6 separate regions of the Homo sapiens genome follow, and regions 1, 2, 3, 4 and 5 are each reported to be linked to region 6. The links are microRNA targets in miRTarBase. Many come from high-throughput screens and were not tested one by one. Region 6 holds a microRNA gene; each other region holds the end of a gene's coding sequence.

The links. The annotated mature microRNA hsa-miR-6727-3p reads UCCUGCCACCUCCUCCGCAG and lies in region 6 at 3,225-3,244, shown strand. An mRNA with a match to its seed (bases 2 to 7 or 8) in the 3' UTR can be bound and repressed. Matches are read on the target gene's strand: a 7mer-m8 pairs with bases 2 to 8, a 7mer-A1 pairs with bases 2 to 7 and ends in A, and an 8mer does both.
Region 1: the mRNA of TMEM231 is a reported target of hsa-miR-6727-3p. Seed matches in the 3' UTR shown: 7mer-m8 at 3,908-3,914 and 7mer-A1 at 2,232-2,238.
Region 2: miRTarBase lists ZNF347 as a target of hsa-miR-6727-3p. Seed matches in the 3' UTR shown: 7mer-A1 at 1,067-1,073, 7mer-A1 at 3,169-3,175, 7mer-A1 at 4,082-4,088 and 7mer-m8 at 4,814-4,820.
Region 3: the mRNA of EID2B is a reported target of hsa-miR-6727-3p. Seed matches in the 3' UTR shown: 7mer-A1 at 1,681-1,687.
Region 4: miRTarBase lists CLNK as a target of hsa-miR-6727-3p. Seed matches in the 3' UTR shown: 7mer-A1 at 1,236-1,242.
Region 5: the mRNA of ANKRD62 is a reported target of hsa-miR-6727-3p. Seed matches in the 3' UTR shown: 7mer-A1 at 1,679-1,685, 7mer-m8 at 2,323-2,329 and 7mer-A1 at 2,361-2,367.

The regions. Positions count from the first base shown.
Region 1 is chr16:75,535,364-75,540,437 of GRCh38, forward strand. It overlaps TMEM231 (transmembrane protein 231), which reads right to left. Exons shown (of 7, transcript NM_001077418.3): 7 at 1,378-4,811. The coding sequence ends at 4,631. It overlaps CHST5 (carbohydrate sulfotransferase 5), which reads right to left and starts at 745. Exons shown (of 4, transcript NM_024533.5): 1 at 681-745; 2 at 1-46.
Region 2 is chr19:53,136,008-53,141,081 of GRCh38, reverse strand. It overlaps ZNF347 (zinc finger protein 347), which reads left to right. Exons shown (of 5, transcript NM_032584.3): 5 at 1-5,074. The coding sequence ends at 774. Among named protein-coding and RNA genes, the nearest start is that of ZNF415, 5.6 kb to the right of the region's middle.
Region 3 is chr19:39,527,896-39,532,968 of GRCh38, reverse strand. EID2B (EP300 interacting inhibitor of differentiation 2B) reads left to right here and starts at 117. Exons shown (of 1, transcript NM_152361.3): 1 at 117-1,982. The coding sequence starts at 167. The coding sequence ends at 652.
Region 4 is chr4:10,485,943-10,491,016 of GRCh38, reverse strand. It overlaps CLNK (cytokine dependent hematopoietic cell linker), which reads left to right. Exons shown (of 19, transcript NM_052964.4): 19 at 404-4,622. The coding sequence ends at 550. LOC105374482 (a long non-coding RNA gene) reads right to left here and starts at 1,904. Exons shown (of 3, transcript XR_925387.4): 1 at 1,822-1,904.
Region 5 is chr18:12,127,291-12,132,364 of GRCh38, forward strand. ANKRD62 (ankyrin repeat domain 62) reads left to right here. Exons shown (of 14, transcript NM_001277333.2): 14 at 458-2,474. The coding sequence ends at 649. Among named protein-coding and RNA genes, the nearest start is that of ANKRD62, 36 kb to the left of the region's middle.
Region 6 is chr1:1,310,672-1,315,745 of GRCh38, reverse strand. MIR6727 (microRNA 6727) reads left to right here and starts at 3,180; the gene lies at 3,180-3,244. It overlaps PUSL1 (pseudouridine synthase like 1), which reads right to left. Exons shown (of 8, transcript NM_153339.3): 6 at 5,058-5,074; 7 at 4,675-4,837; 8 at 4,069-4,416. The coding sequence ends at 4,367. It overlaps INTS11 (integrator complex subunit 11), which reads left to right. Exons shown (of 17, transcript NM_017871.6): 5 at 128-226; 6 at 308-342; 7 at 784-922; 8 at 1,381-1,445; 9 at 1,825-2,014; 10 at 2,154-2,237; 11 at 2,622-2,711; 12 at 2,797-2,959; 13 at 3,046-3,153; 14 at 3,245-3,306; 15 at 3,378-3,520; 16 at 3,599-3,728; 17 at 3,822-4,146. The coding sequence ends at 3,887.

The sequences.
Region 1 (5,074 bases), not on the chromosome of region 6:
GTAACCAAGCCACTGGAAGCTCCTGGAGACTCGAGGCAGAGCGAATCTGGGAACAGGGCAGGAGTCCCAGAATGGGATGTTGAGGATGGGGGTGTCCTGGGGCTACCACAGGGAAGGACCCGGCGCAGAGCTCCCTCCGGAGCCCGGCACTGCGGCCCGCGCCCTCTACTCCCCGCGCGCCGGCCAACAACCCTCGGCGCTGCCCCGCAATCTTCAGCGCTGCCTGGTGAGGAGCTTTCAGACGTGGCTGCGGTCCCAGGGTGGCCGGCGGGAGCCAGGGAAATGGGAGAAGGAAGGAAGGAGCAGGTTTTGCCCCCAGCTCCCTCTCCCCACCCCCGACCGAGGGGCCATGTCTCGGGGAGGGGCGCTGGCCGAGGGCAGAGCAGGAGGGCCCAGGTGGGCTGGGGCTCTAAGAGGCGCACCTTTTAGCCGGGGATGTCAAAGGACGCTGGCAGAGTCACTTCTCATCTAACTGACCACAAATGAACGTTGTAACCCTTCCTCACCCCCCCAATCGCCAGAGAACCTGGGAGCTCCTGGGAGGACAAAGGCCCTAGTGAAGGAAGTCGAATCTTAATCTTGGCCCTCCTCGCTCTTGGGGGCATCCTTGCAGCCAAGGGACTTGGAATCCAAACCCTTCCCAAGGCCCCAACCTCAGCCCTAAGCCAAGACCCAGGCACCTTGATGACACAGGAATCCGTGCTGCCTCCCGGTGCAGTGTCCCAGCTGGGAGGAGTTGAAAGACCAGGTGGCCTTAGGAGCTGTGCCCTCCCTGCCCTAGCCTCCGCCCAGAGGCGCAGGCTTGATAACATGTTCCAATGAATACAGGATATGTTTCAGTAAATAAAAGCTCCCCACCCACCCCTTACAAATAACAGCTCAGCCTGGCCTGGTGGCATATGACTGTAATCCCGGCACTTTGGGAGGCAAGGCAGGCAGATCACTTGAGGTCAGGAGTTCAAGACCAGCCTGGTCAACGTGGCAAAACCCCATCTCTACTGAAAATACAAAATTTAGCCGCGCATGGTAGCACATGCCTGTAATCCCAGCTACTAGGTAGGCTGAGACAGGAGAATAGCTTGAACCCCGGAGGTGGAGGCTGCAGTGAGCGGAGATGGGGCCATTGCACTCCAGACTGGGTGACAAAGCGAGACTCCATCTCAAAAACAAAGAAACAAACGGGCAGAGTCCAGTAATCTGAAAAGGATAGAGCATTGGGAGGTCCTTTAATCCATGGTGGTATCTGAAACGAGGAGTCCCTGCTGCTGGGAGTAGAAATTAGCAGTCTTTCCTGGCTGTGGTTTGGCAATGAATTAAGATCCTTAACAATGGTCATAAGTTTTCTGAATGTATCTTAAGGAAATAAACCAGCAACAATGATTTCTACACAAGGTTTATAAAAGTGTTGTTTGTGATACTAAAAAGGTTACATACAACAAAAAAGATTAGAAAGATGTGTGCCAGAATGCCAACCATAATAACTTCTGTGATCAAACTGCTGTGATCCCAGCACTTTGGGTGGCCAAAGCGGATGGATCACTTGAGGTCAGGAGTTCGAGACCAGCCTGACCACCAGGGTGAAGCCCTGTCTCTACTAAAAACACAAAAATTAGCCGGGCATGGTGGTGGGCACCCGTAATCCCAGCTACTCGGGAGGGTAAGGCAGGAGAATCACTTGAACCTGGGAGGTAGAGGCTGCAATGAGCTGAGATCATGCTGCTGCACTCCAGCCTGGGTAACAGAGTGAGACTCTGTCTCAAAAAAAAAAAAAAAAAAGAAAAAGAAAAAGAAAAGAAAAACCACCTACTGGGTACTATGCTTATTACGTGGGTGATGAAATAATCTGTACACCAAACCCCCAGGTTGTACAATTTAGCTATATACGAAACCCATACATATACCCCATGAGTCTACAATAAAAGTTGGAAGGAAAAAAAAAAAAGAAATAATTGCTTTATTAGCCTTACATGATGGAATATTAGGGGGGCCTCATCTGACTTAAGCCGAAACTGTACTAATCATTTGGCAAAATCAGGAGTCTTTCTGCCTCCAAATATTCAGTAATAACATCAAACCTTAACTTAGCTATGGGTCGGAGCTGAGTTAATAAAATCCTCTATATTTCTTTTTTTTTTTTTTTTTGAGACGGAGTCTAGCTCTGTTGCCAGGCTGGAGTGCAGTGGCGCAATCTCGGCTCACTGCAACCTCCGCCTCCAGGGTTCAAGCGATTCTCCTGCCTCAGCCTACTAAATAGTTGGGATGACAGGCACGTGTCGCCACACCCAGCCAATTTTTGTATTTTTAGTGGAGATGGGGTTTCACCATGTTGGCCAGGATGGTCTCGATCTCCTGACCTTGTGATTCACCCACCTCGGCCTCCCAAAGTGCTGGGATTACAGGCGTGAGCCACCGCTCCCGGCCTCTTGCTTTTTATTTACCTCTTGCAGCTATGCTGTGATTCAGAGTCAGAAACTATCAACATCTGGTCTGTAAATAATTTCATATTCACCAGACACAGTCATAATTATCCAACACGTAGATTTCACATGGCATGTGAATCCCACTGAAAACTCATCTACCTGGGGAAGAACTAGGGGACTTTCACCAAAGACCTCATGGAAGTTCCAAGGTCGTTAGGCAGAGCCTTGTAAAGCATGGCTGTAGATGAGTAATAAAGACAGGTGTGTGCAACCTCTGCCCTCCCTATTCTTTGCCATTCCAAACCCTTTCCCTCGAAAAAGGTACATGTGATCTTCCATTTTGACTTTTTTATTTATTTATTTATTTATTTTAACAGATAGGGTCTCACTCTGTCACCCAGGCTACAGTACAGTGGTGCAATCATAGCACACTGCAGCCTCAAGCTCCTGGGCTCAAGTGATCCTCCCACCTTGGCCTCCCAAAGTGTTGAGATTACAGGAATGAACCACCATGCTCGGCCTCATTTTGAACATTTTAATTAGAAAGTTACAAAACATCATGGGTTCTTTATACAAGATTTGCATTAGAATAATTTAATAAAATGCAAACCAATGTTTATACGTATCTTGTCATCTTTCCATATCTCATTGCCTTATGTGAATTTAAACAAGAAACTATTTTTCGTTTAGATCTTAAGAAAAAAATTTAGGCATATAAAACAGCCTGAATATTAAAAAAAGACAAGGGGGTCAGTGTTAGGGAATTCCTCTGCTTGAATACTTCAAAATAGCTTTGTTTCCAAAACTGTTTTAGTAAGCCTAAAGGAGCACTAAAAACGACAACTGATCTCCAAAGTAAACTGAGGCACACACTGAGGGGTGTGTTTCTGGGTGGGCATGAAGCATGGATCACCGGGGCCATGTCCTTCCAGTGGCAATGACCTGCTTGGGATCAGGAAGCAGCTCCATGTGTTCTTGGAGGAGACTGCCCACATCCTCAGGAGGTGAATGGGCTGAACAAGCCATCTTCCGTGTGCAGAGGCCCCTTCCAGCCATCTCTGCTCCTGCAGACACTTGCTTAGCCACGAGGGTAATCCACTGGACTGCTTGGTATTCTGCTAGTGGCCAGGCTGGACTGGCCTGCCCAGGCCAGCATCCTCTTTACACTCTTACTGCTTCTTGTGTCCTTCCCAAAGCTGCCCGCCCCACTCTGATGGGCACCCTGTTCCTTAGTCAAGGGAAACGCCAGCCGCTGGGCTTCCCGCTAGCCTTCCAAATAAACTTGTGGTTGTCAGGCAGCGGGAGCCAATCCCAACACCAACCCCTGTCGCCCCTGTCCTTTGCAGGAAGGGGGAGGGCTGTCAAGGAGGAGGAGGGCCAAGTGCCCAGGCTGTTGGGTGAGGGCCAGAAAGAACCTGTTGTGACAATGCTTTCTTCCCCCAGTGCTGCTGAGGGGGCTGAGAATGAAACAGCCCCTCTGACTTCAGCCTGCCATCCAGGGGCACAGACAGAGGGAAAAATAGGGCAAAGAGCCCAGTCACAGTACGGCAAAGATCCAGGGCTGCTCAGCTGAGCTGATGACAGATGACTGACTGTTGGGCTGGGGCAGGTGGACGGTCCAAGTGTCCTTCAGCGGCCCTCCCTGATTGCCTGTGCTAATGCGGCCCTTGCCCTTGGGCCCTGCCCCTCCAGGTCTCCAGTTAAAGGCCTCAGCTCTGGAAATCAAAGCTGTGAATGGGAAATGGAGAAGCCCAGGGGTGCAAAGTGCTAGTGATTGGCATGTTTGTCACAAGAGAGCCCTGAAAAGAGTAAGAGTGGCTCACAACAGAAGGTAGAAATGCACAGTGTGTTCCTCAGTTCAACAGAGGAAAAGTCTCTGCTTGACCAGAGATGGGACTCTTTCCAAGATGTCTGAACTGACTGCAATTTTCTCCTGAAATTCAACGCTAAGGCAAAGAAGGAAAACCCAAAAAGCTAATTATAGCCTCCAGGAACTCTCAGACCTTTCCACAAACTAGTCCCTGACAATTCTGCAGGAGCTCTGAAGATACGGAACTGTGTAGAGCAAAACCGGAAAGAACCGTTGTCTCTGAGGGAAAAGCACACAAGCCCGCAGGTGTCCGCTGGGCTCTTTCAAAAGGTCCTAAGATGTTCCCAGAAGATGACAATGAGGCAGCCACGGTCCTGCTGAGTCTTCAGAAATGGCCTTTCTAGGATAAGTGCTCCTTACACAAGTCTCCCCGGGGCGTCACTGTCACAGGAATGGTGGTCACCACCTGATTCTGAAACACGAAGATCTTGATTCTTTCAAACACCCAGAGGAAGATAAGCAGGATGCTGACATACTGCACCCAGGCGAACTTTACCATCTCCCAGAATCCTGGCTGATAAGTATGGACAGTTAAGGAGTGAAGGGCCACATGGTGTTAAGTATGAAGAGAAAATCCAAGATGGAATTGGCTGTGGCAGAGGTATCTCGAAAGGAGGCAGGACCTCTGTCATGTACACACCCAGATGGAAGCTGACCTGAACTTGGCCAAATGGTAAAACCAGCCACATTTGATTTGAGCTATTTATATACCAAGCCTGATGACCAACCTCCTAAACAGACAACTATGCCAAACTAGATTGATCATGGACTAGAGATATCCTGA
Region 2 (5,074 bases), not on the chromosome of region 6:
CACCTTGCAAGACATCGGGGAATTCATACTGGAGAGAAACCTTATAAATGTAATGAATGTGGCAAGGTCTTTAGGCATAATTCATACCTTTCAAGGCATCAGCGAATTCATACTGGAGAGAAACCTTACAAGTATAATGAGTATGGCAAAGCCTTTAGTGAACATTCAAACCTAACTACCCATCAGGTCATCCATACTGGTGAAAAACCTTACAAATGTAATGAGTGTGGCAAGGTCTTCACTCAGAATTCACACCTTGCAAGACATCGGAGAGTTCATACTGGAGGTAAACCTTACCAGTGTAATGAATGTGGCAAAGCCTTTAGTCAAACATCAAAGCTTGCAAGGCATCAGAGAGTTCATACTGGAGAGAAACCATATGAGTGTAATCAGTGTGGGAAAGCCTTTAGTGTCCGTTCAAGCCTAACTACCCATCAGGCAATCCATACTGGAAAAAAACCTTACAAATGCAATGAGTGTGGGAAGGTCTTCACTCAGAATTCACACCTTGCAAGACATCGGGGAATTCATACTGGAGAGAAACCTTACAAGTGTAATGAGTGTGGCAAAGCCTTTAGTCAAACTTCAAAACTTGCAAGGCATCAGAGAATTCATACCGGAGAGAAACCATATGAGTGTGGGAAACCCTTTAGTATCTGTTCAAGCCTAACTACCCATCAGACAATCCATACTGGTGGGAAACCTTACAAATGTAACGTGTGGAAAGTTCTAAAGTCAGAGTTCAAACCTTGCAAGCCATCACAGAATTCATAGTGGAGAGAAACCTTACAAATGAAGGTGGTAACTTTTGCAGTTAGAATTCATTCCTTTGACAACGTCAGAGAATTTATGCCTGAGAGATTCCTTGAAAATGCAATGACTGGCTGGGTGCAGTGGCTCATGCCTGTAATCCCAACACTTTGGGAGTCCGAGGCAGGTGGATCACCTGAGGTCAGGAGTTCAAGACCAGCCTGACCAACATGGCGAAACCCCATTTCTACTAAAAGTACACAATTAGCTAGGCCTGGTGGCGTGCGCCTGTAATCCCAGCTATATAGGAGGCTGAGGCAGGAGAATCACTTGAACCCAGGAGGCGGAGGTTGCAGTGAGCCAAGATCGTGCCAATGCACTCCATCCTGGGCAAAAAGAGCAAAACTCCATCTTAAAGGAAAAAAAAAAAATGCAATGACTGTGGCAAACTCCTCATGAGTTCAAGTATTAATAGACATCCAAGAGTCCATAATAATGAGAAATCACATAAATGTACTGTGTGTGACAGAGGCTTTATTCAGGCCTCACAGCTTTGCAGGCATTAAAATCTACGTATTTGATGGAACCACACAAATGTAATGTGTAAGAGCATCCTGAAGCTCTTACTCTAAGACTGTAACTGTAGGTGAGGATTCATACAAAGAGTGACTCAGTCTCTAGTTCTTTGATTCACTTTTAAAATGATAAACTGCACAATAATTACACGTTCCAATATGGTAAAACTTAAGACATTATATATTTCAAAGGTCAAAGGACATTTGGAAATGGCTACTTACCTTCAGGTTATAAAATCTTTTATTCCATTGTTTGAGGTTTCTCAAAAAGGCTACTGTTTGTGACTTTCAACCTGAACTATGGATCTGTGGCTATTTTGCATCCTTAAGCACCTTTCGTGGTGCCTATCTGGGAAAGAACCACAGTATGGAAAGGCTTACTTCATTACATGAGGATCATTTTTATCCATGTTTATTGAAGAAGGAGGACTCTGCCTTGTAAAATTAAATATTCTCTCAATTGAGAGACCATGGTTTTGGGGCAGAAAATAATGTAAAACTATGATATCAATCATCATACTGATTGTGTTCAGGGTGCTTTTCTGAGAGAAAGACACCATGGGTTTTAGGGAAGTAAGGCTCTACCTGCATTGAGCAGGCCAAGACCTCAGGACACTGGAATTTTTATGAGAGGAGAGTAATAAGTTATTAGTGACTGATTATGTGATGGGAATAGTGCAGGGGAAATGGTTGCCACTTTCTCTACTGAATGGCAATAGCTGTTTTATAGCAGAGATTGATGAAAAATAGGCTTATTTTTGAAATTGAAGAGGTAACAGTTATTAGAGTGGAGAGCTTGGTCAGAAAAACCAGAATACCATGGTTTTTTTTGTTTTGTTTTGTTTTTAGTAGAATTCACACTAATTGCTGGAATTACATTTTGCTACAGTTTTATTAAGAATGTGTCACAGACATAATGTTTTGCTAAAAAAAATTCAACGTTTTCTTATAACTATAAACAAATCACATTCTTTGTACCAACATCATTTTATCCTACCTCAGTAGGATACTTCATAGCAGATAATAACAATACACTCAGTCTTTTAGGTTGGAGGATGTAGAACAATTTTTTTTTTCTTTGTGGAATCAACATACAATTTTGGGAAAATGTAATCATACTCTGCACTTGAATTATTCTCTCTACACTCTGCCTTAGAATATTTATATGGATATAATGAAAATCCCATAGAAAGTGCAGTTTTCATACTCTTACACTCTGAAAGCTGCCACAGTGTTGGTGAATATATACCATATTATATTTTTACATGCTTGTGTGCTAAATAACTATGGCATGCATCTTTATTTACATGAAGTGAAAATACAAATATAGAAAGTGTATGGGCTGGGTGTGGTGGTTCATGCCTGTAATCCTAGCACTTTGAGAGCCCAAGGCAGGGGGGTCACTTGAGTCCAGGAGTTTGAACCAGCCAGGACAACATGGCAAAACCCTGTCTCTACAAAAAAAATAGAAATATTACCCAGGCAGGGTGGCTCATGCCTGTAGTCCCAGCTCCTCAGGGAGACTGAGGCAGGTGGATCACTTGAGCCTGGAGGCAGAGGTTGCAGTGAGCCAAGATCGCGCCATTGCACTCCAGCCTGGGTGACAGAGCGAGACCCTGTCTCAAAAAAAACAATTGTATGAAAAATATTGGCTGGGTGTGGTGGCTCACACCTGTAATCCCAGCACTTAGGGAGGCCAAGGCGGGTGGATCATGGGGTCAGAAAATCGAGACCACCCTGGCCAACACAGTGAAACCCCATCTCTACTAAAAAATACCAAATATATATATATTGGTTGGATGTGGTGGCATGCGCCTGTAATCCCAGCTACTCGGGAGGCTGAGGCAGGAGAATCACTTGAACCCAGGAGGTGGAGGTTGCAGTGAGCCGAGATTGCCACTGCACTCCAGCCTGGGCGAGAAAGTGAGACTCCGTCTCAAAAAAAAAAATTATGAAATTATAAATAGTGCAGAATAACAAAAATAACACTAAGAATGCTATGCTCACATAATTTGACAAGACTAATATTCATGAGTTTCCTCTTAAAAATGAACATATATAATGGAAATTTTGTTTTTGTAGGTAAACTAGAAGTTTCATAAATTTAGCCTTATCATGTTTTTGGTAATGTTAATTTGTCACCTCTCCACAGGAAGTGTATTGAACTCCATTTACAGTTTGGTTTAGATATGGAAAATGAGGATGCTGAACAATGAAGTTTTAGGGAAATGTGTATTGCATAATGAGGCTTTCTGTGAGAAGCAGGATTGACTTCCCAAACTGGTCCAAAATGGCTTGAGAGAGCAGGGATAAATAACTTGCTTGGGGTGTTATGGTAATAACCTTTAATAAAAGGGTGGGTTGGGGTGAGGATCCCACACGTGATTTGAACTTCCATCTAGTGCCAAAGGAGGGAACACGGACATTATCAGCTTGGCCAGATGGGCAGAATAAGAAGAGGGAGTGCAGAGGTATAAATGGTGGTATAAGACAAAAATCACAAAATGGAAACTGACTGTAGTACAACACTGAATATTTACTCTTGCAACTTCTGATTTCTGGCCAGGCATGGCCAGAAATTACAGGCTCATGCCTGTAATCCCAGCACTTTGGGAGCCCGAGGCAGGTGGATCACCTTAGGTCAGGAGCTCAAGACGAGCCTGGCCAACATGGTGAAACCCCATCTCTACTAAAAATACAAAAATTAGCCAGGTGTGGTGGCGCACTCCTGTAGTCCTAGCTACCAGGGAGGCTGAGGCAGGAGAATCACTTGAACCCGGGAGACGGAGGTTGCAGTGAGCTGAGATCTCACCACTGCACTCCAGCCTGGGCAATAGAGTGAGACTCTCAAAAAAACAAAAGAAATTTCTAACTTCTTTGTTAGGGAAGACCTCCGCTTTCTTCATAATAGTAGATAATACTCTTCCTTTCTGCTGAACCCATAGGGCCCATTACACAACGTCATTCTTGAAAATATTTGTGAAATGCTGTTTAAATTGCCTAAAATATTTTTACAGTAGTTCAATGCAAATGAATTTGTGGAAAAGTTTATTACATAATATGATCAAGCAATTTTAGCCAAAGGGCATTTTTCCAAAGGCTGTGTTATATTCATGTCTTGTTCAGTTTATGGTATTGTGTAACATATTCTCCATAGCTTCTTTTCTTTTTTTTTTTCTTTTTCTTTTTAGACGTGGGGTCTCGCTATGTTGGCCAGGTTGGTCTTGAACTCTTGGCCTCAAGCATTCCTCCTGCCTCAGCTTCCCAAAGTGCTAGGATTACAGCCATGAGCCAATAGTAGTAAAATGACTTTTTGTTTTTGTATATGATTTTTACTTTAAGGATTTTTTCCTTCCATACATTTTAATCCAAATTATATGTTTACTGCATTTCTTCTCTGTGTTACTCCAGTGAACACTTAGAAAATACATAAATGAGGGTGTTGTTTAGAAATAAAATTTTGTGACATGAAAATGTATGTAAAACAATGGCAGGTACAGACTAGGTTCTCTGTAAATAGGAAAATGGAGTGTCCTTGTAAATCTTTAGTTCAATTAAAGTACAGGGATACTAGATGGTGAAATGAAGTCTCTTAATATGGAAGTTATCAAAGATCAGATGCTTGAAAATCAAGCGTGTGGAGGTTAACCAGCATCTGGAGAAGTAAATGAAAATACAGTTAATAAGAGAGTCCCCAAGATATTAATTATCATTTATGCAAAGGAGATAATTTCTCTCATTGAATCCCT
Region 3 (5,073 bases), not on the chromosome of region 6:
CTACTCAGGACCGCTAGGGAACGCTAGAGGATTGGCCACCGTGCTTACGCATGCGCACACTCTGGCACGCACAGCGTTTACGCGCTCACTGAGACTCGCGCATGCGCAGGTCTCGCATACAGCAGTGCAGTGCCGTTATTCCAGTCTCCGTAGAAACGCTGGGACTATGGCGGAGCCGACTGGGCTGTTGGAGATGTCCGAGCTCCCCGGAGATAGCAGTGTCCCACAGGTGGGCACCGCGAGTGGCGTCAGCGACGTACTGCGGGGGGCAGTCGGCGGCGGGGTTCGGGTGCAGGAGGCTCGGGAAGGCCCAGTGGCCGAAGCTGCGCGGTCCATGGCGCGGATGCCGGGCCCTGTGCCCGGGCCCATCCCCAGCAGCGTCCCGGGCCTGGCCTCCGCGCCAGACCCCCATCAGCAGCTCGCTTTCTTAGAAATTAACCGGCAGCTGTTGTTCCGCGAGTATCTGGATGGTAGCTCCATGATTCCGGTCAGATTACTACGGGATTTCGAGGAACGCCGCAGGCTGTTTGTGGAAGGCTGCAAGGCGAGGGAAGCAGCCTTTGACGCGGATCCCCCGCAGATGGACTTCGCTGCTGTCGCGTTTACGGTAGCGCTGACTGCCTCCGAGGCCCTCAGTCCTCTGGCCGACTGAGTCGGCTGTGATGATGACATTGGTGGCAAGGAATAGCCAAGTGACCCTTTTGGGATCAAAAGAACAGGCAGGCTGTGCCAGTTTAGTTAACTCAGTCATTAGGGGGAATGCAAACTGGAAGGGAATACGGCAATGTGCAATTGAAGGAGGAAGCACACTCCGAAATGGAAACAGACAAGACTGTTGAATCTTGTTTTCTTTCTTCTTTTTTAGTATTATTTAAATAGAGAAGGGAGTCTCGCATCCCTAGGCTGGTCCCGAACGCTTGGACCCGAGCGATCCTCCCGCTTCGGCCTCCCAAAGTGCTGGGATTACTTTACAGGCGTGAGCCACCGCGCCCGGCCGAATCTTGTTTTCAAACAGGTCCCAAGACACTTCTGACTTAGCACTTTGTTAGCAATGCATTTTCCTGCATTTGTGAAGAATCCTTCATGACTTTCACCATAAAGGATGGTTTTGCAAAGATATGAGAAAAAAAAAATGCCAATAACAGAACCCATAGAAATGAACCTAAGTGATGAAAGAAAACAAAGAAATAGAGTTGTCAGGAATCCAGGTGTACCTGAGTTACTAGGATTGGAAGGCTATTGAGAGGACTTTGAAATTTCACAATTTGTGGTCATGTCAACAAATCCTAGTGTAAGATTCATATTTGTGTTTTCTGAGGTACTTTAGATGAACAGTAAATATTCAATAGAAAAAACCACGTATTATATGATCAGTGTTTTCAAGTCTATGTGAAATTGGGTAGGTGTGGAATAAACTTGTTTTTTGTTAATTTTAAGCTTTTTATTTTATTCTAGAATATGTATTCTATTCACAAGACTCAACAAAAAAAAGTATCGGCCGGGCGCACTGGCTTACGCCTGTAATCCCAGCACTTTGGGAGGCCACGGCGGGTGGATCACCTGAGGTCAGGAATTCAAGACCACCCTGGCCAACATGGTGAAACCCCATCTCTACGAAAAATAAAAAATTAACTGGGTGTGGTGGCACGCGCTTGTAGTCCCAGCTACTCGGGAGGCTGAGGCAGGAGAATCACTTGAACCTGGGAGGCGGAGGTTGCAGTAAGCCGAGATCACGCCACTGCACTCCAGCCTGGTCAACAGAGTGGGACTCCGTCTCAAAAAAAAGAAAAAAAGTATCAAAAGATGCTGTGAGAAATCTCTCTTGTTGCTGTCCTTTGCCAAACTCAGAACTATTCCATGCAGGTGCCATTGCTTGTGGCTTGGAGTTTTGTTGTTGTTTTCTTGGTTTTGCTTGTTTTTTGCTTTTTCACTGTACGCCTTTCAGGTTTTCTAATGCATATGCAAATAAACATCAATCTAAATATTGTGCATTTTCCCTTTTAATATCAAGGTAGTTAACTTGCATCACGAGGTATAAATTTTTAAAAATATAAAATCAAGGTAACATATTGTATACCTCTATCAGCATCTTGGGTTTTTTCAGTTATATATGGAGAGATTTATATATCAGGGTTTTTTTTTTCTTTTTTTATATATAGAAACAGAGATGGGGCCTCATTATGTTTTCTAGGCTTGTCTCCAACTCTTGGCTTCAACTGTTCCTCCTGCCTCGGCTTCCCAAAGTACTAAGTGCTGGGCGTGAGCTACTCCACTGGGCGTTTTTTTTTTTACAACTACAATGTAAAGCCTTATCTTAGTATAATGAACTAGACACCTTTTGGACATCTGGGTTGTTTGCAAAATGTTTTAACATTTTCTATGCATTTATACGTGTTTACTCGTTTTCCATAATACACTGTTTTTTTTTTTTCTTTTTGAAACAGAGTCTTGCTCTGTCACCCAGGCTGGAGTGCAGTGGTGCAATCTCAGCTCACTGCAATCTCTGCCTCCTGGGTTCAAGTGATTCTCCTGCCTCAGCCTCTGGAGTACCTGGAACTACAGGCACGTGCCACCATGCCCGGCTAATTTTTTGTATTTTTAGTAGAGAAAGGGTTTCACCGGTTAGCCAGGATGGTCTCGATCTCCTGACCTCAAGATCTGCCTGCCTCAGCCTCCCAAAGTGTTGGGATTATAGGTTTGAGCCACCGCACCCAGCCACCTTATTTTTTGTTTGTTTTTGTTTTTTTTCTGAGACGGAGTCTCACTCTGTCGCCTGAACTGGAGTGCAGTGGCACCATCTCAGCTGACTGCAACCTCCACTTCCCGGGTTCAAGCTATTCTGCCTCAGCCTCCGAGTAGCTGGGACTACAGGTGCACCACTGTGCCCAGCTAATTTTTGTATTTTTTTAGAGAAAGGGTTTCACCATGTTGGCCAGGCTAGTCTCGAACTCCTGACCTCGTGATCCACCTGCCTCAGCCTCCCAAAGTGCTGAGATTACAGGCGTGAGCCACCGCACCCGGCCCCACCTTGGTATTTTTAATGTGTCACCAGAGTGCTGTCCTTGGGGCTCAACCAGTTTACCTTCCATTCAGCCAGGGATAGTTGTGCCTCTCGCCACGGCCTGGCTAATCTGACAGCTTTGGAAGCATCTGACAGTAAAAGATGGTTTCTCACTATGGTTTTAATTTGAATTTCTCTAATTACGAGTGAGGACGCATGTTTTCAAATGCTTAAGAGCCATTTGTTTTCATTTCTCAGCGAACTATCTGTCCATATTCTTATTTTTTATTGGCTTGTAAGTTATGTGTCAGTCACTAAAGAAGTTAGCCCTTTGTGATGACATGGAATATAGTTCACAGCAGTTCAGACTGCTGTGATCCTTTTGCCATGCAGAAAAATGTTGGGTGGGCGTGGTGGCTCACTCCTGTAATCCCAGCACTTTGGGAGGCCGAGGCGGGCGGATCACAAGGTCAGGAGATCGAGACCATCCTGCCTAACACGGCGAAACTCCGTCTCTACTGAAAATACAAAAATTAGCCGGGCGTGGTGGCGGGCGCCTGTAGACCCAGCTATGCAGGAGGCTGAGGCAGGAGAATGGCGTGAACCCGGGAGGCGGAGCTTGCAGTAAGCCTAGATTGAGCCACTGCACTCCAGCCTGGGCGACACAGCCAGACTCCGTCTCAAAAAAAAAAAAAGAGAAAAAAATTTTTAATGTAGCTGTGTATATTCAGTTTATTTCTTTTGCGGTTTCTAGACTTTGAGTCATGGGGCCGGGTGTGGCTCACTCCTGTAATGCCAGCACTTTGGGAGCCCGAGGTGGGCGGATCGCAAGGTCAAGAGATCGAGACCATCCTGGCCAACATGGTGAAACTCATCTCTCCTAAAAATACAAAAATTAGCTGAGCATGGTGGCGCGCACCTGCAATCCCAGCTACTTGGGAGGCTGAGGCAGGAGAATCACTTGCACTCGGGAGGCAGAGGTTGCAGTGAGCCGAGATCATGCCATTGCACTCCAGCCTGGTGACAGAGCGAGACTCCATCTCAAAAAAAAAAAAAAAAAAAAAAAAAAGAAAGGTCTTTGCCACTGCAGGATCATGAAGGAATCTGGTTTTTTGTTTGGTTTTTTTTTTTTTTTTTTTTTTTTGCCTCAGGTTGCACCCTACCTTCCCCCCACACTCATGAATAGTTTTAAGTTTTAAATGTTAACATTACAATTTTTATTCATTTGGAATGTTTTAGGTCCTAGTAGTGCTAGTCCACCCTCATTGCTCTTCTTTTCCAAAGTTTTTCAGGCTGTTCTTTGATTTTTTTTTTCTATTGTGGAACTTTAGGATCATCTTGACTAGTTTCAATTTTTACAAAAGCTGTTAGTATTTTTATATAGGTTGCATTCAATATATATACTGTTGAGTGAGAATTGACATCCTCACGATGTCATCCTATCCAGTAATGTGGTAAGTCTTTTCATTTGTCCCCAGATGTATTTTAAAGTTTCCTTCATATAGGTCTTGCATATTTTTGTTAAAAATATTCCAAGGTTTGTTTGGTTTTCTGTTTGTTGTTTATGGCTATTGTAAATGAGGTTTTATGGTGTGTAAATTTGAATGCTATCTTTTTTTTTTTTTTTTTGGTGCTCTATTAAACTTACTCTATTCTCTTATTGTTTGCAGTAGCTTTTCTTTGGTATACAATCATATCATCTACAAAGAACAATAGTTTTACCTCGTTCTTTTTTTTTTTTTTTTTTTTTTTTTTGAGACAGAGTCTCGCTGTCGCCCAGGCTGGAGTGCAGTGGCACCATCTCGGCTCACTGCAACCTCTGCCCCCCAGGTTCAAGCGATTCTCCTGCCTCAGCCTCCTGAATAGCTGGGATTACAGGCGCCCACCACCACACTCAGCTAATTTCTGTATTTTTAGTAGAGACAGGGCTTCACCATGTTGGCCAGGCTGGTCTGGAACTCCTGACCTCAGGCAATCTGCCCGCCTCAGCCTCCCAAAGTGCTGGGATTACAGGCGTGAGCCAGTGCGCCCAACTGGTAGAGAATGTTGTTAAAGGTCAGATCCGCGTTTGT
Region 4 (5,074 bases), not on the chromosome of region 6:
GAGGCGGGTGGATCACCTGAGGTCAGGAGTTCGAGACCAGTCTGGCCAACATGGCGAAACCCTGTCTCTACTAAAAATACAAAAATTAGCTGGGCGTGGTGGCGCATGCTTGTAATCCCAGCTACTTGGGAGGCTGAGACAGGAGAATCACTTGAACACGGGAGGCGGAGGTTGCAGTGAGCCGAGATTGTGGCACTGCATTCCAGCCTGGGTGACAGAGCAAAACAACGTCTCAGAAAAAAACAAACAAACCAAAAACCACTTCCTGAAACACCTTTACCATACAAACATTGTTAAATTGGTTCACCTCTTCCCCATGCAAAATGAAGCACCTTGGCTATACTTTAACCTACAGACACAAAAGATATTTTAAAAGTCATTAACTTTCTTTTCTGTGTTTCAGAAGTTTGATTCAGTAGAAGACATCATCGAACACTACAAGAATTTTCCCATTATACTAATTGATGGGAAAGATAAAACTGGGGTCCACAGGAAACAGTGTCACCTCACTCAGCCACTCCCTCTCACCAGACACCTCTTGCCTCTGTAGCCTGGTCTTTGTGTTATCTTTGGTTTACTGGATTCAGCGCTTCCATTGTTTTCATTGATTTCAAAAGTTTATTTTCTGTGCCTTCAAGGGACAACTTTTTTAACTTTGGAGAAAAGAAAAACACTCTATAACAGAGAGTGGAAAATCACTCACGGTTTTGAAAGTTCAAACCACAGAGAAAATATTTATAACATGCAAAAAATAAAAACATTCTAGTAACTGGCCACTGGAAAATAAATAAAAATAAAAACTAGGGTTTTAAAAGTATCTTCTAAAAAACAACAACAAAAAATACTATAAACATAGCCATTATGCTCATGATACAGGCGAGCAGCAAAGGGCACCAGAAGCTGTTGCTTAAATGTTTGCAGTCAGTGCAAGACAAGTCTATGGGAAATTCCCAAATCTGTGCTCTTTACAGGACACTGCGCTGCCTTTATGTCAGTTGTTGGGCCTTACATATATACAATGTGTGGATGATTTCTTACACTAAAGATGCTGGGCTGGGTGCGGTGCCTCATGCCTGTAATCCCAGCACTTTGGGAGGCTGAGGTGGACAGATCACGAGGTCAGGAGATCAAGACCATCCTGGCTAACATGGTGAAACCCCATGTCTACTAAAAATACAAAAAATCAGCTGGGCGTGGTGGTGGGTGCCTGTAGTCCCAGCTACTCGGGAGGCTGAGGCAGGAGAATGGTGTGAACCCGGGAGGCGGAGCTTGCAGTGAGCCGAAATCGCGCCACTGCACTCCAATCCAGCCTGGGGACAGAGAGACTCCGTCTCAAAAAAAAAAAAAGGTGTTGGGTTGGTGAATATTAGCTCTCTTTTATTGTAATCCTAGAAATTCAAGTATAGGGAAGAAATGTGGTATGGAAAACCAGCAATTGTGAATGTCACCTTGAAGACAGAAACTGAAAATCCTCTGACTAGGGTGTGAAACGGTCATGGGACCAGCCTCCAGCATCATCTGCTTCAAGTAGCTTTAAGTCAAATGGAATTAACACATTCATAGTACAGAGCTCAGATTATATCCTACACTAGCCTTCAGGCAAGCATATGTCTGAGGGAAACTAAAAATTGTATTAACAATTCCAATTATGGACTTCCATTCAAAGACAGAGAAAAACTGTCCTCAAATTAGTGCTAATTCTTGCAGTAACGTTGCACAGGCCATGATATTATTCCCTGTAGAGGTTAAGAGGATTTAATTTTATTATTGTTTTACAATAAAGATGAGGAAACAGAGGCTCGAAGTAGCTATTGATCTTACTCAATATGAGAAGAGAGCCCAGATTGTAATCTGCTTTGCCTGGCTCCATGCAAGCTCATCTTCCCAGGTACATTCTCTGCGCTGTGACATTTTACAATCAAGTTGAAAAGCTAATTTAAAAAAAAAGAGAGAGAGAGAGAGAAAGATAGAAACAATTTGAAAATACAGATTTACCACCTTAAAATAAATAAACTCTTCTAGTGGGAATAAGCTTTTTTAAAAAACATACTGTCTGTCGAAAATAACAGTATATCATGATGTCAAATGCTACCAAAGCTTACAAAGGAAATTCATAGAGTATTTATGTAATTGTAGCATTGATGCAGAAAGAAAACCAAAAATAATTAAAAGGCAATAGAAGCAAATGAAAACAATAAAAACAATGTGCAGGATTATCTCTTTTGTAAGACAGCAGACAATGAGCTCTCTGGGAAAAGCTCTTAGCATCTACCCACTATCCAAATACCTGCTCAGGTGTTCTCCTTTCACAAGGTCAATGTGAAGTGATGCCTATAAGTTACATCAGGAGCATTTAATGAAGAAGCTATTTGTAAAGCTGGAACTTTTGAGACCCAGCTGAGCCTATCGTAGAGTATGCCTGCAGAGGATTACATAGAACCAAGAGACAAGAGTGTTTAAATTGGAGCTTGGATACGAAAGAACTCACTGGTCCGGTCAAAGCTAAAAGCTGTATGGTTGCTGGTCATTCTCTACTGGAATTCAACAAGCCAGGGACAGTATGGAAACAAGGACTTTACAGAAGAGCTCCAGGCTCACATTAAGAAGGAATCTGACCCTCACCCTAAAAAGCTATTGGGAGATTACTGATACCTCCAACTCACTGATTCATTGAGGCCATGCCATTCAATGCTATGTTCTCAAGAAATGTCTATGAGTCCTCTCAACCATTGCTGTTGATAAAATAGGTGAATGTCAAGTGGGGGTTAGCATTTGATAAGGTGTACGTTTGAAATAATATTTTATCGTCTCTTGTTCACAAATACAACATATAATTCCAAGAAGAAAAAAGAAGTAGAAATTCAGCATCCTTAAGATGACAGCAAGAATGAGGGGAAAAGGAAGAAAAAAAAGAAATTAAACATCTTGCAATAAAAAGCTTACAATATTTTTGTGTATTTGAACACTTCTGTAAAAAATATAAAATGGAAAATACTGACATGGGCTGCTTCTGGTGATTGGGGTTTGAGGGATTGGGTGTCGGGTTTTCTAGAACTCAGACACCAGGACAAAGTTAGAAGTGCAAACACTGATTGGAGGTTAATGTTTGAGAAAGATAAAAGGGAGAAGAAACAGAAGTATGGGTATGGGGTGGGCTTTCAGGCTCCCACCTGTGAGAGGGAAGAGGGGAGGTGTGGGGAGTGAGGAGAAAAAGCATGAGATTCAGACACAGCTCTGGGAGAGTTTTGGCCAGCTCATAGTGAGGCCCAAAGCAAAGTTTGCCCAGAGAGGAGACAGTGTTATGCTGGGCAGTAATGTCTGGGTCTTAGTGCCCCATCCTGTTAAGTCATTGTCTGGGGCTATCCTGGGAAAAAGAAAAACAACAAAAAAAAAAGACCTGCAAATGCTGTGGCCAATCCAGAAGGCGCAGCTGGACGCTGTCCACTAACTTGCTGGCCAGCAAGTTATTTCAATGGAGACTCAAGAGACCCACCTCTGGCCTGCCACAGCAACATCCTGAATTCACTGTTTTCAGTGTTGATTGTAGTAAGGACAATCACATTTACATTTTGCTTGTAATGGATGATTAAATAATAAGAGTATATAAATTCGATTGTATTTGTTTCTTACAACACTTCTGTAAAGAAGAGAGGGCAGCTATTTCTAATGCATTTTATAATTGAGGAAATTGTACCTCATTGGCCAAAATCTCACAGTGACATAGTCGCGACTGGAACCAAGGTCTCCATATGCAATTATCCTATTCATGGTCTACCTGCTTTATTAGATCTGTAATTGAATATTCAATGATTTGGATTTGGCATGCCCAAATTCCAGTGTTTTAATCCCTTTTCAACCATTACCTCACGTTTAGTTTAAAAGTATCACTTGATATCTGATTTCAATAGAGTAATAGAATTTTAGCTTTATCCAATTACAGCATTTATGCTTTCCAGATATTTTTTGGACTAAATAATTCTCATTCTGTATAAATGTGCATAGCCCTCATCATTAGTCATATATTGTGTTAGCACCTTTGTGTACTGCATGTGTATTCATTACTAAGCACTATTGTAGATGTTGAAAATAGAGCAGTGAATAAGAGAGATAGATGACAAATAAATATACAAACAAATAAGATAATCTAAGTCAGTTTCCCATTACTGGATTGGATTTCTATTTTAACACTTATTTCTGAGTACTTGTGGGGTGATGCCAACATTAAATGTTTTGAGGAAGCTCCTTTGAGATGGCTTTGAAAAGTCCTAAGTGAGAAAATTTAAAATTTTCCCAAACTTATTTATGTGGGGTGTGCATGTGTGTGCCTGTGCCTGTGTGCGTGTGTGTGTGTGTGTTTTTAAGTAACCGCATCATGGCTGTAATCAGTTAAGTCTCCTGTTCTAATTACTACGGAGGAATCAAATGAACCCCATTGTCGAATGTAGCCAATTATGTATGTGTGTACACAAATACAAATTTTTATGATAGCCTATATTGTATATTAGCATTATATTTGTATATCTTTTTTATTCTGAGCAATATTTGTTCTAGCTAAGCACATTTACATTCATAATTTACAGCCTTACTAATGTAAATAAAAGTAAATATGTAATTGAATGTTATAATTTTCTCTGTCTCTGAGTATTGAAGAAAGAAATTCAAAACATAGTTTAATTTTGTTTCATGCCCTATTACCCCTAAAGCTCTTTTGAAATTATATTTAGGGCAAATTTAGGATAAAATTACCAGAACAATTATTGACATATGAGCATTATGCTAGACTTTGGAGATAAAGACAAAAAAGACACAATCCCTGTGATTGTGAGCTCAGAGCCTGGCCGGAAAGATACACATGTAATAACCATCTTAATATGTGTAAGTTAATATCTCATTGTGGTTTTGATTTGCTTTTTCCCAATGATTAGTGAAATTGAGCACCTTTTCATATGCCTGTTGGCCATTATCAAAAAACAAAAGATAACAAATGTTGGCAAGAATGTGGACCAATGGAAACCCTGTACATTGTTGGTGGGAATGCCAAATGGTGCAGCCACTATGGAAAACAGTACTGGGT
Region 5 (5,074 bases), not on the chromosome of region 6:
GAGCCTCTAAGGCCATTGGAAGGTTAGTTTTCTTCTGAGGTGGAAATCTGTTGGAAGGATTTGAGCTGGTGACTGAATATGTGAAGAACTCTGAGGTTGATTTGAGCTTCTTCTTATAAAAAAGACGGAAAACACTGCAGTGTAAAATTCACTGCCACCAGTCCCACCCACATACCTGTTTCTTTTTGAGACCTCAGAAGGTTTTTAAGCATTGCACATTCATCAGTGCGCTGAATCTGTTGTATGAGTAACACGGCACCAGTTTGGCACAAAGATAACACCTTCTTTATCCTTAACTGGATTCAGTAATAAACAGGAATGTGTACACATGAGGAGGAGAAGAAGAATCAGTGTGTGGTGGTATTTTTCGAAGTGTGTATATTAGAGTTAAATATTATTAACAAAATTTAATAATAAGTGATATGTAAAATCAGTAACAAAAATAACATCTTACCAGGTAGTCAGGAGACAGCTTCAACGAGAAGTGGATGATGCCCTGAACAAACAATTGCTGTTAGAAGCTATGCTAGAGATTTCATCAGAACGTCGTATTAATTTAGAAGATGAGGCACAAAGTTTAAAAAAGAAATTAGGCCAGATGAGAAGTCAAGTATGTATGAAACTTAGCATGTCAACAGTTACTCTGTAGCTGGTTAAATAATATCAAGTGTTTCAGGACACTAGTTTCAGTGGAGAGCTTTCTTTTGTATTTTCATTATAATTAATTTTATTAAAATTTGATTATCTTTATAATACATCCATTTCTCAATCTCTGCCATGTTTTATAATTATAAATATTTTTCTTACACTATTTCCCCTTATGAAAGTTGAGAATTACACATCATTTCTCACAGAAGATTAGAGAATTCTTTTTTCTTTTTACAGTATATTTTTAGTGATTTCTTTCATTGCCACGTGGAGACAAGCCAGATTAATTCAGAGGATAATGTCTAATGGAATGTTTCAGAAAATTTTCTTTTTTTAATCTCTACTTTTCTGTGTGAATAAAGACTTGTGCTTACTTATTTCATGGGTTTCTGGTTAACTGGTACAGAAAGTCCATTCTGCAGAATAAATTAGTATTTTGATGAAAATCCTTGCTCTGACTTTATATTGGTCTATAGTCAGAGTCATATGACTATGGACAGTTAGCATTTGCCAACATGTATGTGTCTACTTTCTCTTGCTTAAAACAAAAACAAAAAACTTTACAAATGGGGTTATAGAAGGTCAGCAAAGGGTAGGTTTGAGATGTTTGGGTGGGTCAAGTGGGCATTTTGACAACGTGGCTTCTCCTTTGGCATGTCAATGGACATCCCTGCATTTTAAGATGACACTTTTAAATAAATTATCTCCTAATGATGACATGAGCCCTGCCACTCGATAGGAGAATCTATCTATTTTAATTATTTTTCTGTTTGTTTTAAAATTTTCTTCTGGTTTCCCTGGAAAGGAAAGATGATGCTTAGTTTTAAATGTTAAAAATGGGTCGGGCGCGGTGGCTCACGCCTGTGATCCAAGCACTTTGGGAGGCTGAAACGGGTGGATCACCTGAGGTCAGGAGTTTGAGACCATCCTGGCCAACATGGTGAAACCCCATCTCTACTAAAAAAGATAAAGAAATTAGCTGGGCATGGTGGTGGTGCACGCCTGTAGTCCCAGCTCCTCGGGACGCTGAGGCAGGAGAATTGCTTGAACCTGGCGGGGTGGAAGTTGCGGTGAGCCAAGATGGTGCCACTGCACTCCAGCCTGGGTGGCTGAGCAAGACTCCGTCTTAAAAAAAAAAAAGTGCAAGTTTTCTTGCTACAGCAAAAATTAAATGCAAACAGACAAAAAAGAAATGAAATTATAGTTGATATAGTGGTGTTTGGAATTGAAAAATATAAATGCTTACTATAATTTCCTATGTTTCCCCATTTTACCAATTTTGTAAATTTGAGTATCTGATAAAATAGAAATTAGAAAAGAAAAATACTGTGTTTTAATCCTAGAGCATAGGCAGTAAACTTTTCTGTAAAGGGCCAAGTAGTATTATTTGAGACTTTGTGAGCCATAAGATCCCTGTTGCAACAACTCAACACTACAGTTACAGCACAAAAGTAGCCGTAAACAATATGCAGACTGAAGGGGTGTGGCTGCATTCCAGTAAAATTTAGTTAAAAAACAGGTAATAGGGGCCAGGCACGGTGGCTCACGCCTGTAATCCCAACACTTTGGGAGGCCGAGATGGGCGGATCATGAGGTCAGGAGATCAAGGCCATCCTGGCTAACACGGTGAAACCCCGTCTCTACTAAAAAACACAAAAAATTAGCCAGGCGTGGTGGCAGGCGCCTGTAGTCCCAGCTACTCGGGAGGCTGAGGCAGGAGAATGGTATGAACCCGGGAGGCGGAGCTTGCGGTGAGCCGAGACGGTGCCACCGCACTCCAGCCTGGGCGACAGAGCAAGACTCTGTCTCAAAAAAAAAAAAAAAAAAAAAAAAGTAATAGGTCGATTTGTCCTAGATTATCATTTTTTATTAAAATAGATTGTGATAGTCTAAAAACAGTATTTTATATATAACCATATTTTGTTCATTCATTCACCTATTGATGGGCATTTGGGTTATTTCCACACCTAAAGGTTGTTTTTAATTCTTTGTTTTAGTTGCAAGAAATGCAGAATCAACGCACAGAGATTCTAAGACGTGCTGAGGAGTTGCCAGACCACATGCAAAAGTACAGTTTAAAGCAACATACAAAATATCTTGAGTATTTATAAAGCAAATGAGTAGTGTAGTAGGAGAATTGTATCAGTTAAGATAATAAGTATGTCTATGTGAAGTCAAGGAAAAATTTCAGCTTTAGGCTATTTTGAAATGCATAAATTTTCTACATTATTTTTAATTTTACACATCACCCACAAAACAAAGGTAAAAAAATAACAACAGTTTCTCAATTTTCTACTTTTCAAATGTCTCAGAATTTATATAATTATTCCTTCAGATGTTTGTTCAGAATTTATATGATTTAAAAAAAATTATGTCTGAGAATAATTATTTTAAAATATATATTTTAGGCTTAAAATAGAAAATGCCGTGTTAAAAATTAGAATGAAAAAGCGAGCGGACAAAATTGAGCAGCTTCAGAAAATTTTGGTAAGTTCAAGTTCAATAAGTCAATCTCTTATTTTCTGTCACACTGAAAAGGAATTTTATTTTTCTAGAATATCCCTTGTCCAAAATGTTTGGGAGGACCAAAAGTAGATTTTTTCAGAGTTTGGAATATTTGTATACACCTAATGAAATACCTTAGGGATGGTACCCAAGAGTAAACGTGAAATACATTTATGTTTCATATATACCTTATGCATATAGCCTGAAGATAATTCTACACAATGTTTTACTTTTTTTTTTTTTGCCTGGGGTTGGGGGATGCAGTGGGGCACAGAGTCTTGATCTGTCGCCCAGACTGGAGTGAAGTGGTGTGATCTCAGCTCACTGCAACCTCTGCCTCCCAGGTTCAGGCAATCCCCTGCCCCAGCCTCCCAAGTAGCTGGGACTACAGGTGCGTGCAGCCACACCAGGCTAATTTTTGTATTTTTAGTAGAGATGGTTTCACCATGTTGGCCAGGCTGGTCTTGAACTCCTGACCTCAGGTGATCCACTTGCCTCAGCCTCCCAAAGTGCTGGGGTTACAGGCGTGAGTCATCACATCTGGCCTGTACAATGTTTTACAAAAATGTTTTGCATGTAACAAAGTTTTAACTGTGTTTCCACCACAGCCTGTCACATGAGGTCAGGTGTGGACCTTTCCCGTTGTGGTATCATGCGGGTGCTCAAAAAGTTTCAAATTGTACAGCATTTTGGATTTCAGATTTTCAAGTTAGTGTTGATCAACCCTCCTTGACATATAATAGGGCTACATGATAATGTCTCTTGTTTAACTTAAACATTATTAATAAGATTTGACAGTTTCAGATGCAGCAGGTGTACAAGGAAACATAACTGCAGAAGTAGATGAAGGTATGTTGCCAAAAATTATGAATTAAATTTAAATCATGGATTTCTGAAATAAATATAAATAGTGAATGGGTTGCTTGGTTAACAAATACCACATTAAATACTTTTTCTTATACACATTACTGAAAGATGTGAAAACAAACATTCATAATGAAAAGTATACTTATGCCTCATTAGTTTATCATCTTCAATAGCTTTAAAAAAAGTCCTAAGAAGTCTGTGTGTATCCCTTTTTTTTCTGGCTCTACACTTGTTCCATCTCTATGGAACTGTCAGCTTGCACGCTGAAACTGTTCTCAGAAAACAAAGGCATCATCAACTTCTCAAGGTTATGGTAGTGATTTAAGGCCAAGAGATGCTAGACTCATGTATCAAGCAATTACAGTTCATAAGCAGTCACTTGACCAGTCATATTTTAAGAGAGAGAGAGAGTGTGTGTATGTGTGAGTGTGTGTGTGTGTGTGTGTGTGTATGTGTTTTATGTAGACTTGGTTTCTGGACTCTGTTCTGTTCTATTGATCTCTTTATCTTTATGCCAAAATCACACTGTTATGATTTTTGTAGCTTTGTAATAATTCTTCAAACTGGATTGTATTTTTCCTCTAAATTTATTCTTTTGTTTTTTTCAGAGTTACTGCACATTTCTGTGTCATCTACATGCCATGAGAGTCTTAAAATCAATTGTCAATTTCTACAAAATACCTGCTTGGATTTGGACTGTGATTGCATTATGTCATGGTAAAGAATCTTAATAATGATGACTCTCTCAACTTGTGAATAAGGTATTTTCTTAGATCTTCTTTGATTTTTCTCAACAATACTTTTTAGTTATTATTGTACAGATATTTTGCATAGTGTCAGATATATTCCCAAGAATTTTATATTTTAATGCTATTATAAATAGTATTATTTTTAAAATTTCAATTCCTAGCAGTTTATTTCTAACATATAGAATTACGATTGATTTTTATATATTGATCATGTATCCTGCAATGTGGCAAAACTCATTGGTGCCAGTAACGTTGTAATTGGTTTCACTTGGTTTTCCACATAGATGATTATGTCTGTGAATAAG
Region 6 (5,074 bases):
CCGCCCCCTCGCTCCCCTTCCCCCACGCTCCCCACCCCCGCCTCCCGCGCTTCCCGTCCCCCGCCTCCCTCACTCCCCGCCCCTCTGCTGTGAGGACACAGCCTGAGCGCAGCCCTGTCCTCCACAGGTAGATGATGAGCTGGAGATCAAGGCCTACTATGCAGGCCACGTGCTGGGGGCAGCCATGTTCCAGATTAAAGTGGGCTCAGAGTCTGTGGTCTACACGGTCAGTGGAAGGGCTTGAGGCTTGGGAGGGGCTGCTGGGGTGGGAGGCACCCTCCTCATGGCATCCTTGATCGTTCACCAGGGTGATTATAACATGACCCCAGACCGACACTTAGGGTAAGTAGGCTGAGGTGTCTTTTTGTCCCGTGGGCCCCCCTGGAGCTCAGGACCCTTGCAGGTGTCAGGGTGCCAGCCCTTGAGTGGCCAGCCTGGCAGTGTCTCCCATGTCCTGTGCGGCCTGGAGAGCCCCCTTCGTTCTGGGCCCAAATGCGCGAAGGCACAGGGTCCAGGCAGGGGCCTCTGTCCCTCCTTCTCTCTCTTCCCAAGTCTCTGGGTGGGTGCCTCTGTCTCGCTCTTCCGAAGTGTCTGGGTGGGTGCCTCTGTCTCTCCTCTCTCTTCCCAAGTGTGCTGCCCACAGCATTTTACCAGCTGGCTCTTTCCAGCCAGAGTGACCTAGGAAGGCGGCTGGGCGTGGTACTGGGGTCCAGCTTGTCACACCCAGCCCTGCAACCGTGGGGACAGTGCATCGTGGCTCACACCCCCACCCCCGTGTTCCAGAGCTGCCTGGATTGACAAGTGCCGCCCCAACCTGCTCATCACAGAGTCCACGTACGCCACGACCATCCGTGACTCCAAGCGCTGCCGGGAGCGAGACTTCCTGAAGAAAGTCCACGAGACCGTGGAGCGTGGTGGGAAGGTAGCTGCAGCAGGGGTGGGGACATGGGCCCTCGGCCATGCTGGGCTGGTCTTTCTGGCAGGCTTGGCTGCCCTTGGCATGGGTCAGGGTCTCAGGGTGGGGGGTACTGCATTTTCAGGCAGGGAGGGAAGAAGATTTGCTCAACATTGAGGAGGAAAACTCAGAGACCCTTTCCTAGGGAGCCCCTTTTCCCTCCTACCTCAGGTGCGGACGAAGCCCTGGCCAGGCTCCTTCTGTCTCTCATGCAGCTCCCTTCTGTCTCTCATGCGGCTCCCTCCTGTCTCTCATACGGCTCCCTTCTGTCTCTGGAGAGCGGCTGGGACGGGACTGGGAGCAGATGAGAGGCTAAGGTCCCTATGAGGCCGCAGCTCTTGGGCACCTGGCCGTGCCCTCACTGGACGCTGCCTGCTGTGTCGAGGGGCCATGTGCCCAGGGCTCCTGCCTTGTGTCCCCCTCAGGTGCTGATACCTGTGTTCGCGCTGGGCCGCGCCCAGGAGCTCTGCATCCTCCTGGAGACCTTCTGGTAGGTGCCGCCAGGACGGCTCTTTAAGGAGCCCCTGGCCCGGCCTGAACACAGTCCAGTTGGTGGGCAGCCCTGTCCAGCGTAGCGGTGGCATCTTGGCCCTGCTTGCTGCTGTCCTGGGGGGCCGCTCGTGTGCTGTGTGACCCCAGGAAGCCTGTGACATCCCGTCAGCGCCACCGTGTGCGGCTCTTGTAGGGGTTCCTGGTTCTCCGCTGAGCCCGGCTGCTGCAGGGCTTAATGGGACAAGTGGTCGCGACTGGACTCAACCTGGCCCGTGCGTGGGCTGTGCAGACACGGGTGTTGGGGGTGACCCGGCCGAGTCCTGCCCTGCAGCATTCTCCCCTGTGGCCACTGTGCTGACTGGGCCGGTGGTCCCCAGGGAGCGCATGAACCTGAAGGTGCCCATCTACTTCTCCACGGGGCTGACCGAGAAGGCCAACCACTACTACAAGCTGTTCATCCCCTGGACCAACCAGAAGATCCGCAAGACTTTCGTGCAGAGGAACATGTTTGAGTTCAAGCACATCAAGGCCTTCGACCGGGCTTTTGCTGACAACCCAGGACCGATGGTGAGGCCCGCGGCAGGGCCGGCCAGCACATCCACACCCGTCGGTCTCCTGTCTTCCGCAGGTGTCTGGGCTTGGGCCTGCAGTGGGGGTGGGGGCATCTGCTGCCCTGACCCCCCACCTGGCCCTGTGTGTCCTGTAGGTTGTGTTTGCCACGCCAGGAATGCTGCACGCTGGGCAGTCCCTGCAGATCTTCCGGAAATGGGCCGGAAACGAAAAGAACATGGTGAGGGCATGGTGAGGTGTGGGAATCTGGAAGCTGGAGGCCGACGGGTTGTCCTTCCACCCATGCTGTCTCTGAGCTCTCACTGGCTTGGCCTCGTGCTGGCCAAGGGACGTGGCTGCTGCTGCTGGGGAACGGGGGCGATGTCCGCCTGGAGCTGCTCAGTCTCTGTGACACAGCTTGTCCACCTCGGGCAGAACAGCCCCAGCCCAGCCCTGGACAGTCTTGTGCCAAAACCTGAGCCCTTTGGAGTCTGCAGCTAGGCTTGGTCGGGCGCCGCTGGCAGGTGGAAACAGCTTCCAGGGGTTCAGGCGGGGGCATCCCGGGCAAGGCCTTGAGGTGCCAAGGCTGGAGTTCCCTGGCTGTGAGCTCTGTGCCTGCCCCCAGGTCATCATGCCCGGCTACTGCGTGCAGGGCACCGTCGGCCACAAGATCCTCAGCGGGCAGCGGAAGCTCGAGATGGAGGGGCGGCAGGTGGTGAGTCTCGACCCCGCACTGGGCTGGCAGGGCCGAGGGGCACCTCCTGGTGGTAACCACTGTCCACGCCCCGTGGCCTCTGTAGCTGGAGGTCAAGATGCAGGTGGAGTACATGTCATTCAGCGCACACGCGGACGCCAAGGGCATCATGCAGCTGGTGGGCCAGGCAGAGCCGGAGAGCGTGCTGCTGGTGCATGGCGAGGCCAAGAAGATGGAGTTCCTGAAGCAGAAGATCGAGCAGGAGCTCCGTAGGCAGCCGGGCGGGCGGCGTGGGGCCCACCTCGGGTCAGCACGGGCAGCCTGGGCTGAGGCTCTCTCTTCCCCCGGGGTCCAGGGGTCAACTGCTACATGCCGGCCAATGGCGAGACGGTGACGCTGCCCACAAGCCCCAGCATCCCCGTAGGCATCTCGCTGGGGCTGCTGAAGCGGGAGATGGCGCAGGGTATGCGGGCTGGGCAGGGCAGGGCAGGGTGCTCGGGGCAGGCGGCTGGGAGCGGCCCTCACATTGATGGCTCCTGCCACCTCCTCCGCAGGGCTGCTCCCTGAGGCCAAGAAGCCTCGGCTCCTGCACGGCACCCTGATCATGAAGGACAGCGTGAGTGCCAGGACGGTCTCTGGAGGGGGGAGGGCCGCTGCTGCGCTCACTGACCTGTCCCTGCCCCACAGAACTTCCGGCTGGTGTCCTCAGAGCAAGCCCTCAAAGAGCTGGGTCTGGCTGAGCACCAGCTGCGCTTCACCTGCCGCGTGCACCTGCATGACACACGCAAGGAGCAGGAGACGGCATTGCGCGTCTACAGCCACCTCAAGAGGTGGGCGCCCGGCCCCGCCCCCCCCCCACTCCCTTGGGCCCTGGAGGCCAGGCAGGGTCTCACCGAGCCTCCCCACAGCGTCCTGAAGGACCACTGTGTGCAGCACCTCCCAGACGGCTCTGTGACTGTGGAGTCCGTCCTCCTCCAGGCCGCCGCCCCTTCTGAGGACCCAGGCACCAAGGTGCTGCTGGTCTCCTGGACCTACCAGGTAAGGGGTGACCCCCACCCCACCGCGGTCAACACAGGTATCAACATTCCTCCCTGTCCTGCACCACCCACAATGCTTTTGCCTCTGCCCTAGGACGAGGAGCTGGGGAGCTTCCTCACATCTCTGCTGAAGAAGGGCCTCCCCCAGGCCCCCAGCTGAGGCCGGCAACTCACCCAGCCGCCACCTCTGCCCTCTCCCAGCTGGACAGACCCTGGGCCTGCACTTCAGGACTGTGGGTGCCCTGGGTGAACAGACCCTGCAGGTCCCATCCCTGGGGACAGAGGCCTTGTGTCACCTGCCTGCCCAGGCAGCTGTTTGCAGCTGAAGAAACAAACTGGTCTCCAGGCTGTCTTGCCTTTATTCCTGGTTAGGGCAGGTGGTCCTAGACAGCAGTTTCCAGTAAAAGCTGAACAAAAGACTACTTGGTACTCTCTTCTTGGTGTACATGGCTGTGTCCTGCACTGTGCCCCATCCCGCCTGGGACAGAGACGGGCATCCAGGGTGCTGGGACCCGGGCAGGGAGGCTACTGTGGAGACCAGGCAGCAGTGCTGTGGGCCCCAAGCAGCTGTGACTGCCCTGGCTTGACCAGCACAGGGTTGGGCCTGGTGTGGCCTAACTTTGGCTTGAGTGTCCAGGGTCATCCGTGGCTCCCGAACTGTGGCCCCTGCAGGGTGCAGGAGGCAGCACCTGTGGACGGACCAGACCCTGCGTCAGCCTGGGGCAAGACCGGCCCAGCACCCTCCCCACCGCTGAGACCACTCCCATGACCAGGGAGTGGGCCAGCCCAGGACGGGCTACGGGCTGGCCTGAGGGACTGCAGCCCTGGGCGGGGGGCTGCTTCACCCCCAGTTGCTGCCGTCAGTGGCCCCTGGCCCCCCACCCCATGCCTCGGCCACAGTAGTCACTGGGCACATGACAGGAGCTTCTCGTGCCTGTTTTTCTTACCGAGGTTCCCGTACAGCACTGACTTGAGGAATAAGCCGTGGGCTGGGGCTACACGTGTCTGGTGCTTGCCCAGGGGATCTTGGCTCTCCAGAATCGTCTTCACCTGGGCAGGTGCCAAAGCCCCCAGCCCCACGGCCACCAGCACAGCCGTCATCCTCCGTACCTGTGACCCAGAGCCACCTGTGACCCAGAGCCGCCCGTGACCCACCAGCACAGCCGTCATCCTCCGTACCTGTGACCCAGAGCCGCCCGTGACCCACCAGCACAGCCGTCATCCTCCGTACCTGTGACCCAGAGCCGCCCACGACCCAGAGCCAAGACTGCACAGGGGCCTGCCCACCCTCAGCCCCACCCCCTGGGGACGGCCCCAGAACAGAGCCTACCTGTCTATACAGGAAAG